Homo sapiens: one gene and its partners. The protein of the gene in region 1 purifies or fractionates together with the protein of each later gene. This does not show direct contact. Each region holds a gene or a part of one and is shown in the gene's direction. Other genes may lie near its edges. The genes, in order: UBN1, ZNF606 and CDIN1.

Region 1 (2,364 bases):
CGAGGTAACCCTGGCGAACTGGTGCCAGGTGGAAGTAAGGACCCTCTGTGCTGCACGTCTCCCAAGTTACATCTGCCTCATGATGTGCTGTGGCTCCCTGGCACCATGGCGCATTATAGTAAACACCAGAGGCCATATGGGGCAAGACTAAATCTGTAAATCTCCACAATGGAAACTGTGCTTCTTTGAGGGGCTAAGCCTATAGCACTAGTGACTCCTCCTTTCCTTGGGAGGAGAAGTAAAGTGCAGTGACTTCTCTACAGACTAGAGGCTGCAGAGCCACCTTGGTGAGAGCAGGGGTCTTTCCAAAGTCAGGCTGCCCTGCCTTTGCTTACTCTCAGGAATGTTACTCTCAGAAAAGCAAAGTAATTGAGGCCGGACGCGGTGGCTATCACCTGTAATCCCAGCACTTTGGGAGGCCAAGGCAGGAGGATTGCCTGAGTCCAGGAGTTCAAGACCAGCCTGGGCAACATGGCAAGACCCTATCTCTACATTTAAAGAAAAAAATTAGTCAGGTGTGGTGGCATGTGCCTGTAGTCCCAGCTCTTTAGGAAGCTGAGGCAGAAGGATCACTTGAGCCGAGGAGGTCGAGGCTGCAGCGAGCCGTGGTCATGCTACTGCACTCCAGCCTGGGCAAGAGTGAGACCCTGTCTCAAAAGATTGCTTTCTGCTATATTTTCATTTTTCCTCTGGGTATGAAAAGGCTATCAGAATAGGAAGAATAAGTGCTAGTGTTCTATACCACTGTAGGGTGACTGTAGTTAACAGTAGTATGTAGTTTCAGTTAGGAGGAGGATATTGAACGTCGCCAGCAAAAGGAGATGAAAAACGTTTGAGATGATGGATATGCTAATAACTCTAACGTGACACTACACATTTTAGATGTTGAAACATCACTATGTACCCCATAAAATATGTGTCATTATTATGAGTCAGTTTTTAAAACTGTTTAAGGCTCTCAGAGGCTGGATGTGGTGGCATTGAGAGGCAGGAGGATTGCTTGAACCCAGGAATCAGAGGGTATAGTGTGCTGTGATCATGCTTGTGAATAGCTGCTGTACTCCAGCCTGGGCAACATAGTGAGACCTCATCTCTAAAAAAATTTTTTTTAATCAGTTTAAAAGTTCGAGGAAAAAGAAAATCAATCAGAAAAGCAACTATACCAAAACAGGGTTATCCAAGTGAGCTTCTCTCACTTCCTTAGATGGACTTCAGCTTATAGGATGACACGAGATGCGAGTAAGAAGCTATTTGCGCATTTCAGCTGCGTGACTTGTGTCTGCGTTGCTTTCCTTTCTTTCTTCTGTGGACTGAGAATGCTAGTGCCTTTGAATTTGTCTTTACAGGACCTGAGGGTCTTTTGATGGTAAGAGAATGAATGATCATTGCTGCCTTGAGTTCTGTGTGATCGTCAGGCCTCGCCTCAGGATGGCAATTGTAGCCTGAGATGACGTAGCCCAAGTTGCACAGCAGAGTTGCTGTTCTGGAAACACTGTGCTGAGTGACCACCGACCTTCACAGTGCTAGTGTGCTTGCAGGCTGTGGCCAGGAGTAGTGTACACGAATAACTGCTGGCTGGTGTCTCATGGCTTGTTTGAGCTCTAGAACACTCAGCATTTGGGGACTTTTGCTATTTAGGTGTCTCCCTTGAAGTTTGGTTACTACTGCCTTAAGGAAATCAGAGAGCATGAAAAACTTGCGTTCTAATTTTTCTTACTCTTTTCCAGGTGCTTCTCAGCTTCACGGGAAAGGGCCTGCTGTACCACGGAAATTGTGACCGCTTCAGAGGCAAGGCTTGCCACTTGGGTCTGGGTGGAATCAGAACGTGCAGGTCTCCCAGGATGTACACTCACTGCGCCCTTTCTGCTGCTTGGTGTTCTTCTGGAGGAGCGTGAGTTCTCAGCGGAGCGCTTCTCGGCACTTCTGATGTGCCTCCCATGGAGGGAGCCGGGCCCTTGCTGCTCAGGAGGTGCAGACTGCCCCGTGCTCTGGGCCTTGCAGCTCTGTCGCTAGACGGTTGTTAGAGGGGCAGCTCTAGGCTGGGGCTTGCGCTGGGCCGTGGTGGGAGGCACAGTGTTTACAGGCTCTGGTGGCAGAGCAGTTGGCACACCTGTGGGTGAATCTGCCTGATCCCCTGGCATTTGGTCAGAGTACCTCAGAGCACCCCACTGCTCAGGGGCTCCTTCTGGCTGCAGTAAGCTCCCTGGATGGTCACAGTGCCGCCCCATCCCCAGGCTGTGTGCTCAAAGCGGACAAAACTCAGGCCAGAGCCACAGCTGGGAGACCTGCACTGTCCCTGCGAAATACTAAGAACACCTAGGGTGTGCTCACTGTGGGGGCCAGTTTCTCCTCGGAACATGACAA
Region 2 (3,654 bases), on another chromosome or scaffold:
ACCTTTCCTTTTTCCTTCTCGTTTTCCAGTTAGTTTTCTTGCTTTCATTAAAAAAAAAAATCAGTTTAGATTGCTTGTAACTAATGTGCTTTTAATGGCAGCTGTAACCGATTCTCCTTGGCCTGGGCTGCTCTGGGGCATCCTGCTCACCCTTAGCTTCAGTCCTTGGGACAGAGATGAACTGAGAATGGAAACCTCCCCACCATGGCTGGAAAGACAACTTGTGAATGTACAGATCACCCTTTCAGGTCCTTTATCTGGGTGTCGGAGCAAAGACTCCATCCTCAAGGTCTCGCTTGTAGCCAGTGCTCATAGCCTGTTGCTGCACTGGTCCAGGCCTTTTTATATGACTGCCTTTCCAGAAGAGGGGTGTTGCCAAGGTGGGGGACATAGCCAGTGTGCTGGAATTTGGCAAGAGTCTTCGAAGAGACCTGCTCAGCTTTGCTGTGGTTATTGTGGACCCAGGTATCTAATTCCCTAAGAGTATATAACAAATATGAGGTCTTGGGTGGTTCTCAATGAGACCTGACTCACATTAGTCAGACTCTTGAATAACCAGGAGAGTTTCTCTACATCCTGTCTTCTCTCCCCAGGGCTGTCAGCCTCACTCCATCCCTGGAAATATTGGAGGGGGTGGTCACAGGCTGAGAAGGAACGTTTGTGTTCTTTTAGGAACCAGTGACCTTCAAGGACGTGGCCGTGGACTTCACCCAAGAAGAGTGGGGGCAGCTGGACCTTGTTCAGAGGACCCTGTACCGTGATGTGATGCTGGAGACCTATGGTCACCTGCTCTCTGTGGGTAAGGCAGGTGCTGCCCAAGTAAACGAAGCTGTTCCCATGGTAATGCCTTCAGCTGCTCCATGTTTAGAAGCTCATTGCAGGGGCGAGGGTGGTGTCTCAGAAGAGCTGAGATGATCTTGGGCCCTGAGGTTCAGGGATGAAACTCCTAATGCTTAAAGAGCATGGAGTGGGAAGGACCTTGCATATTCTGCCCAGGTTGAGAAGTCACAGGGAGGAATAGGCAAGAGAAGCTTTCTTTGGCTGTCCTGAAGCCTCATGACATGATTTCCATGCTTTTCCTCCATGCATAGGAAATCAGATTGCCAAGCCTGAGGTCATCTCCCTGTTGGAGCAAGGAGAAGAGCCGTGGTCAGTGGAGCAGGCATGTCCTCAACGCACTTGTCCAGGTGAGGGCAGACCCCAGGCTGAACAAGGAACTTCCCCCCAAGCCCTCTTTGTTGAGAAATGGGATAAGGCCATGAAGAGTTACCTTCCTCAGATGCATTTAGAATTCCCTCTAAGGAGCTTTCTTCTCTTGCTGCTTTTGATTTAGAGCAAAGAAGCATCACCATCCTAATAAGGTAGCCATTTTCCCTCGCTGTCGGCTCTTGATGGCTCCTGTTTTCTGCGGTCCCTTCCTCTAAGGTTGCCTCTAAGGTTACCTCTTATCCATGTAGCTACTTCAAATATTTTCCTTATTTCCTGTATTGCCAAACTTGTAACCTATAGCTATAGATGCTTATTTCAAAAAAATAGTCTTTTTGGGCTTTTTAGTTTGTTTGTTTTGAAATAAAGTCTCGCTCTGTCGCCCAGGCTGGAGTGCAGTGGTGCGATCTCGGCTCACTGCAACCTCTGCCTCCCGGGTTCAAGCGATTCTCCCACCTCAGCCTCCTGAGTAGCTGGGATTACAGGCACCCGCCACCATGCCTGGCTAGTTTTTGTATTTTTAGTAGAGACGGGGTTTCACCATGTTGGCTGGGCTGGTCTCGAACTCCTGACCTCAAGTGATCCGCCCACCTCGGGCTCCCAAAGTGCTGGGATTACAGGCATGAGCCACCGTTCCCGGCTTGGGCTTTTGTTCTTTCTTACTTAGATCTTGTGGGTACCAAACAAAATAGATTTTTAAAATATAGGTAATGTTCAAATATCTGAAAGCTACTTAAAATGTATAAGCTAAAAAAAAAATCTCCTTTATTAAAAAACTTAGCTGGGCTTTATGGTGCATGTCTGTGGTCCTAGCTACTCAGGGGGCTGAGGTGAGGATTGCTTGAGCCTGGGATGTTGAGGCTGTAGTGAGCTGTGATTTCACCACTGCACTCCAGCCCGAGTGACAGAGCAAGACCCTGTCTGAAAAACACCACCAAAAATAACTCATTTTTACTCCCTGCTGTTACTCACATTACTGTTATTCCCCCAAAACACAGATACACAGAGGCATACACACAGGTAACTACTTTTCTTTTACTATAAAATCTTGAGTTATTTTCTTGGTAGTTGCCCTGGGGATTACAATTAACATCTTTTGAGACAAGGTCTTGCTCTTCTGCCCAGGCTGGAGTGCAGTAGTACAATCTTGACTTACTGCAGCCTCTGCATTGCAAGCTTAGGCAGTCCTCCCACCTCAGCCTCCTAGGTAGCTGGGACTACAGCCATGCACCGTCATGCTCAGTTAATTAAAAAAAAATTTTTTTTTGTAGAGACAAGGTCTCACTATATTGCCCAGGCTAGTCTTGAACTCCTGTGCACAAGCAATCCTCCTGCCTTGGCCTCCCAAAGTGCTGAGATTATAGGTGTGAGCCACCACGCCTGGCCCTACAATTAACATCTTAATTTATGACAATGTAGTTTGGATTAATACTAGTGTAATATTAATAGTATACCAAAACTTTGTGTATAGCTCTGCCCTCCTCCTTTTATGCTGTTTTGTCACAAATTACATCTTTATACATTGTGTGTTCATGAATATGGATTTATAATTATTGCTTTATGCAGTTGTCTTTTAACAGACTGAAAAAAAGGAGCTAGAAACAAGAATTTTACTTATATTGTCTTTTTATACTTATGTAGCTATCTTTATTGCTGTTTTTTATTTTGAGTTACTGTTGAATGTTCTTTCATTTCAGCCTGAGGAACTCATTTTAGCATTTCCATTTTGTTTTTTGAGATAGAAAAGACACTCTGTTGCCCAGGCTGGAGTGCAGTGGCATGATCTTGGCTTACTGGAGTCTCAACCTTCTAGGCTCAAGTGATCCTCCCATCTCAGCCTCCTGAGTAGCTGGGACTATAGGTGCACACAACCACGCCTCACTGTGTTGCCTAGGCTGGTCTTAAACTCCTGAGCTCAAGTGATGCCCCTGCCTCAGCCTCTCAAAGTGCTGGGATTACAGGCGTGAGTCACTATCCCCAGCCAGCATTTCCTGTCGGACAGGTTTGCTAACAGTGAACTGTGGCGTTTTGTTTATCTGGAAATCTCTTGATTTCTCCTTCATTTTTGAAGGATAATTTTACTGGGTATAGAATTCTTGATTGTCATGTTTTTTTGTCTTTCTTTCTGGCCTGAGTCGTTTCTGAGAAACAAGCTGTTAATCTTATTGAAGATCCCTTGTACGTGATGAATTTCTTCTCTCTGCTTTCAGGATTCTCTCTTCGGCTTTTATTTTATTTTATTTATTTATTTATTGAGACAGACTCTTGCTCTGTCGCCCAGGCTGGAGTGCAGTGGCGCGATCTTGGCTCACTGCAGCCTCTGCCTCCTGGGTTCAAGCGATTGTCCTGCCTCAGCCTCCTGTGTAGCTAGGATTACAGGGGCCCGCCACCACGCCCAGCTAATTTTTTTTTTTTTGTATTTTTAGTAGAGGCAGGTTTCACCGTGTT
Region 3 (3,754 bases), on another chromosome or scaffold:
CTTTTATTTGTACCAGCCTGTTAATCTTAAAAACAGCCCATGCCCGGGCGAAGTGGCTAATGCCTGTAATCCCAGTACTTTGGGAGGTAGAGGCTGGAGCATCACTTCCGGTCAGGAGTTTGAGACTAGCCTGGTCAATAAAGCGAGACTTCATCTCTAGAGAAAAATTTTAAAATTAGCCAGGTGTAGTGGCATGTGCCTGTAGTCCCAACTACTCGGGAGGCTGAGGTGGGAAGATCGCTGGAGCCCAGGAGTTCGAGGGTGCAGTGAGCCACGATGGAGCCACTGCACTCCAGCCTGGGCGACAGAGTAAGACTCCATCTCTACATCAAACATACACAAATAAAACACCTCCATGAATTAAATCAGTTTTACAGACAAAAGAAATGAGGCTTCGATGGATTAAGGAATTTATTCAAGGAGGTATATCTAAAACTTCCAACCCAGGCATTATTCCAGATGAAAAATTTTAAACCACTTACAGGTTCTCTAAAGTCTAAGCACCTTTGCTTTAGTTTGCTTAAATTGTTGAAATCAGAAGAGAAACACAACACATGACCTTCTAAGAACCAAACAGATTTTAGAAAAGAGATTAAATGAGGGACTGATATCCCAACAAATTGCTTTAGGAGAACTGAGATCCATTCACAATACATATAGAAAATAAAAAAAGATTGGCTCATTACTCCAAACATTTATTGAGCGCCTACTATTTTCTGAGAACTGGGGTTACAATAAGATGCGATTTTAGACCTTGAGCAGCTAACTGCAAGGAGTGAAAGTGACTTTTTTTTTTTTTTTTGAGACGGAGTCTCGCTGTCGCCCAGGCTGGAGTGCAGTGGCGCGATCTTGGCTCACTGCAAGCTCTGCCTCTCGGGTTCACGCCATTCTCCTGCCTCAGCCTCCTGAGTAGCTGGGACTACAGGCGCCCGCCACCACGCCCGGCTAATTTTTTGTATTTTTAGTAGAGACGGGGTTTCACCGTGTTAGCCAGGATGGTCTCGATCTCCTGACCTCGTGATCCGCCCGCCTCGGCCTCCGAAAGTGCTGGGATTACAGGCGTCAGCCACCGCGCCCGGCCAAAAGTGACATTCTTTACTGCCGGCTGTTTGATGACGTCGGATTTGTTTCAAGTCTGTTTCTCAACAAGGACAAAACTGCCTTCCACGCGATGTACAGAAGTTGTAGGGCTTCCTCAACACAAGCCAAATTATGTTTACAGCGACCCTAGTGAGTTTTCCTGCTCGGACCATGACAGACTTGGTAGAGTGAAGACATGGTTTCTCGGCAGGCCAGTCCACGCTCCGAGGAGCGCTCAAACTGGCGCGTTAGGAAGTGTATTCAAATCGCGCGCTCTGGCAGGGGCTTTCGGGGGCTCACGCTGAAGGATCGCGGGGCACTCGTGAGACCTGCCGCCTGGTCTGTGCGTCAGGCCGCCCTGGCTTCTAGTAATTGGGAGAGTACAAAGCATCCCTTGTTGACCCTTTGATCCTAGGTGGGCGATGCCCTGGATTCCTACCTGCCTACTGAAACTCTGGCGCGGCGCCTTTCCAAGGGCGGCCGCTACTTCCTGGTTGGTTTGCCCTTAACTGACATGGCGGCTAGTTGCCTTCGGCGCACCACTGCGGCTGCTCAGTAAGCCAAGCTAGGGCACTCTGGTGTACAGCCAGTCCCCGCCGCGGAGGTGCCGGTGGAGCCTGGGACCGGGCGAGTCTCCGCCCCGCTTTTGCAGCTAGGGGTGTGTTTCAGGGGGGATTGGGGCAAGCCAAGCAGGCGAGGACCCGGGCCTGTGCCGCTTTGCCTACCCCTCATCCCTCGGCACCAAGGCTACTTGAGCCCCAGGGTGTTTTTTCCTTGTTCCCGCCACCTCCTGGTCCCTGGCCCAACATGATACTGACCAAAGCTCAGTACGACGAGATAGCCCAGTGCCTAGTGTCTGTGCCGCCTACCAGGCAGAGCCTGAGGAAGCTGAAGCAGAGGTTTCCCAGGTAAGTGTCCATCTCTCCCCTCTCACAGCCCTTTGCCTGCAGCAGCAGTGCCTGGGCCGCCCAGGCAGCGCTTAGGAACCACGTGTCACACATGAGTGGGGAGGAACACCAGTGTCAGGCGTTAGGAGGTCGAGGTTGGCGAAAAAAGGTTTATTCTTTCACTCGCCTTCCACACAAAACTCTTAACGGTGAGTTCATGGCAGCCTTCCAAGGCCTTGCAATTAAATTCAAGTCAACAGATATTTATGGAAAACGTGGTACGTGCTAGGTGATGGGTGAACATAGTAGGTGCTTCATAAATGACCAGAGGTTAATTGACAGATAGTAGGAATGAATGATGGGTGGGAATATGAATTGTAGATTCGAAAGGAGCAAATGGAGGACCCTTTTCAATTGGCCGTTGGAAACAAACAAGGGAGCATAGAGGTAAAGCGGCTTCATACTGTTTGACTGTGGCTTGTACTGTTAACTGTGGAATTAAGTGACCTCAAGGGTTCTCAATCCAATCAGAGAGCAGGGTACCCAGGGATTCCACTCTTGGGTCATTGGCCATTTGAACAACCAGATCTAAAGTTTCTCCATATATGTTATGCATACACACATTCCGGGTGTATTTCATACTTCCTCCCCCAAACACTTCTTTTTTCAGCGATTTTAGAATTATCCAACTTTCTAAGAAAGGACTTTGGGAATTATGTAGATTTCTCATTTTAATGAAGTGGAAACTGAGACCCCAACATTACATGAGGAACCAGTTGAGGACAACCAGGTCACTGTATTTATGTTGTGTTAAAAGCAGAGAATGTTTGTTTACTTTTTTCCTAATGAAAAACCAAATCCAAACCTGTACCATTTTGTTTTGTGGCACTGAGCATGGTTATTCCTAATGGAGAGCTTCCCCATCCTTGACGTATTCAGTCCCTGAACAAACACGACAGAAGTAATTTCTTGAGAAAAGAAAGGTAATTGGATAATAGGTATCAAAGTACAAATTGAAGCATAAGTTTAAGTTCTGTTATGACTTTGCTTTTTGAAGGACTTGGTTTTCCTAGTCTGTAAAATGAAGGAGTCTCTTTTCAATATTATCCAGATTTGATTTAGGGCAATATTTATCCCTTTATAGCCTTTAGTATTTTATCAGACTTGCTAAGAAGGAACAAAATTGACACATAATTTAATTTTCTGTCATTAACTCTTGCCAGTTCTGCACATGAACAGTGAAATGGGTGAAGACTGGTCAGCCAAGGGAATAGGTAGATTTTTCTGGGCAGTTTTAAGAAAGAGCATACATTTTGATATTCTCCTCTCACTATGTATGCAATCACTTGTAATTTTGCTTTTTTTTCTCTTCCTCTCCCTCTTTTTCTCTTTTTCGTTCTTTTCTCTAGCAAATACCTTGTCTTCTCTATAATAAGTAAGTGTCTGTTACTTTAATCAACACTTACAAAAGCCTCCCTTCTGTCTGGTGTATTCTCTTATGCTCTTTTCTTTCTTATTCATGATATACTCAAATCTTTTTCACTTCTCCCAAATGCCATACAGGGAATAAATAACAACTCTCCTTCCACAGGAAACTTTATTTAGAGAGAGCTGAACTACTAATCCGCAAAAGAAGGGATTAAAGAGCTATTTAGGGCTGGGTGTGGTGGCTCACGCCTGTAATCCCAGCGCTTTGGGAGGCCGAGATGGGAGGATCACTTGAGGCCAGGAGTTCCAGATCAGACTGGGCAACGTAGCAAAACCCCGTCTCTAATAAAAATCCAAAA

What was found.
Region 2: the proteins of UBN1 (region 1) and ZNF606 fractionate together in Homo sapiens (co-fractionation; one large-scale study listed by BioGRID). This does not show direct contact.
Region 3: the proteins of UBN1 (region 1) and CDIN1 purify together in Homo sapiens (affinity purification with mass spectrometry, with the first as the bait; one large-scale study listed by BioGRID). This does not show direct contact.

Annotation. Positions count from the first base shown.
Region 1 is NC_000016.10:4,878,356-4,880,719, forward strand, and holds part of UBN1 (ubinuclein-1), read left to right. Parts: intron 1-1,727; coding exon 1,728-1,777; coding exon of another isoform or gene 1,778-1,895; 3' UTR 1,896-2,364. UniProt on the Homo sapiens protein: Acts as a novel regulator of senescence. Involved in the formation of senescence-associated heterochromatin foci (SAHF), which represses expression of proliferation-promoting genes. Binds to proliferation-promoting genes.
Region 2 is NC_000019.10:57,985,740-57,989,393, reverse strand, and holds part of ZNF606 (zinc finger protein 606), read left to right. Parts: intron 1-672; coding exon 673-799; exon of another isoform or gene 800-804; intron 805-1,091; coding exon 1,092-1,187; intron 1,188-3,654. UniProt on the Homo sapiens protein: May act as a transcriptional repressor.
Region 3 is NC_000015.10:36,577,974-36,581,727, forward strand, and holds the start of CDIN1 (CDAN1-interacting nuclease 1), read left to right. Parts: upstream 1-1,652; 5' UTR 1,653-1,887; coding exon 1,888-1,988; intron 1,989-3,754. UniProt on the Homo sapiens protein: Plays a role in erythroid cell differentiation.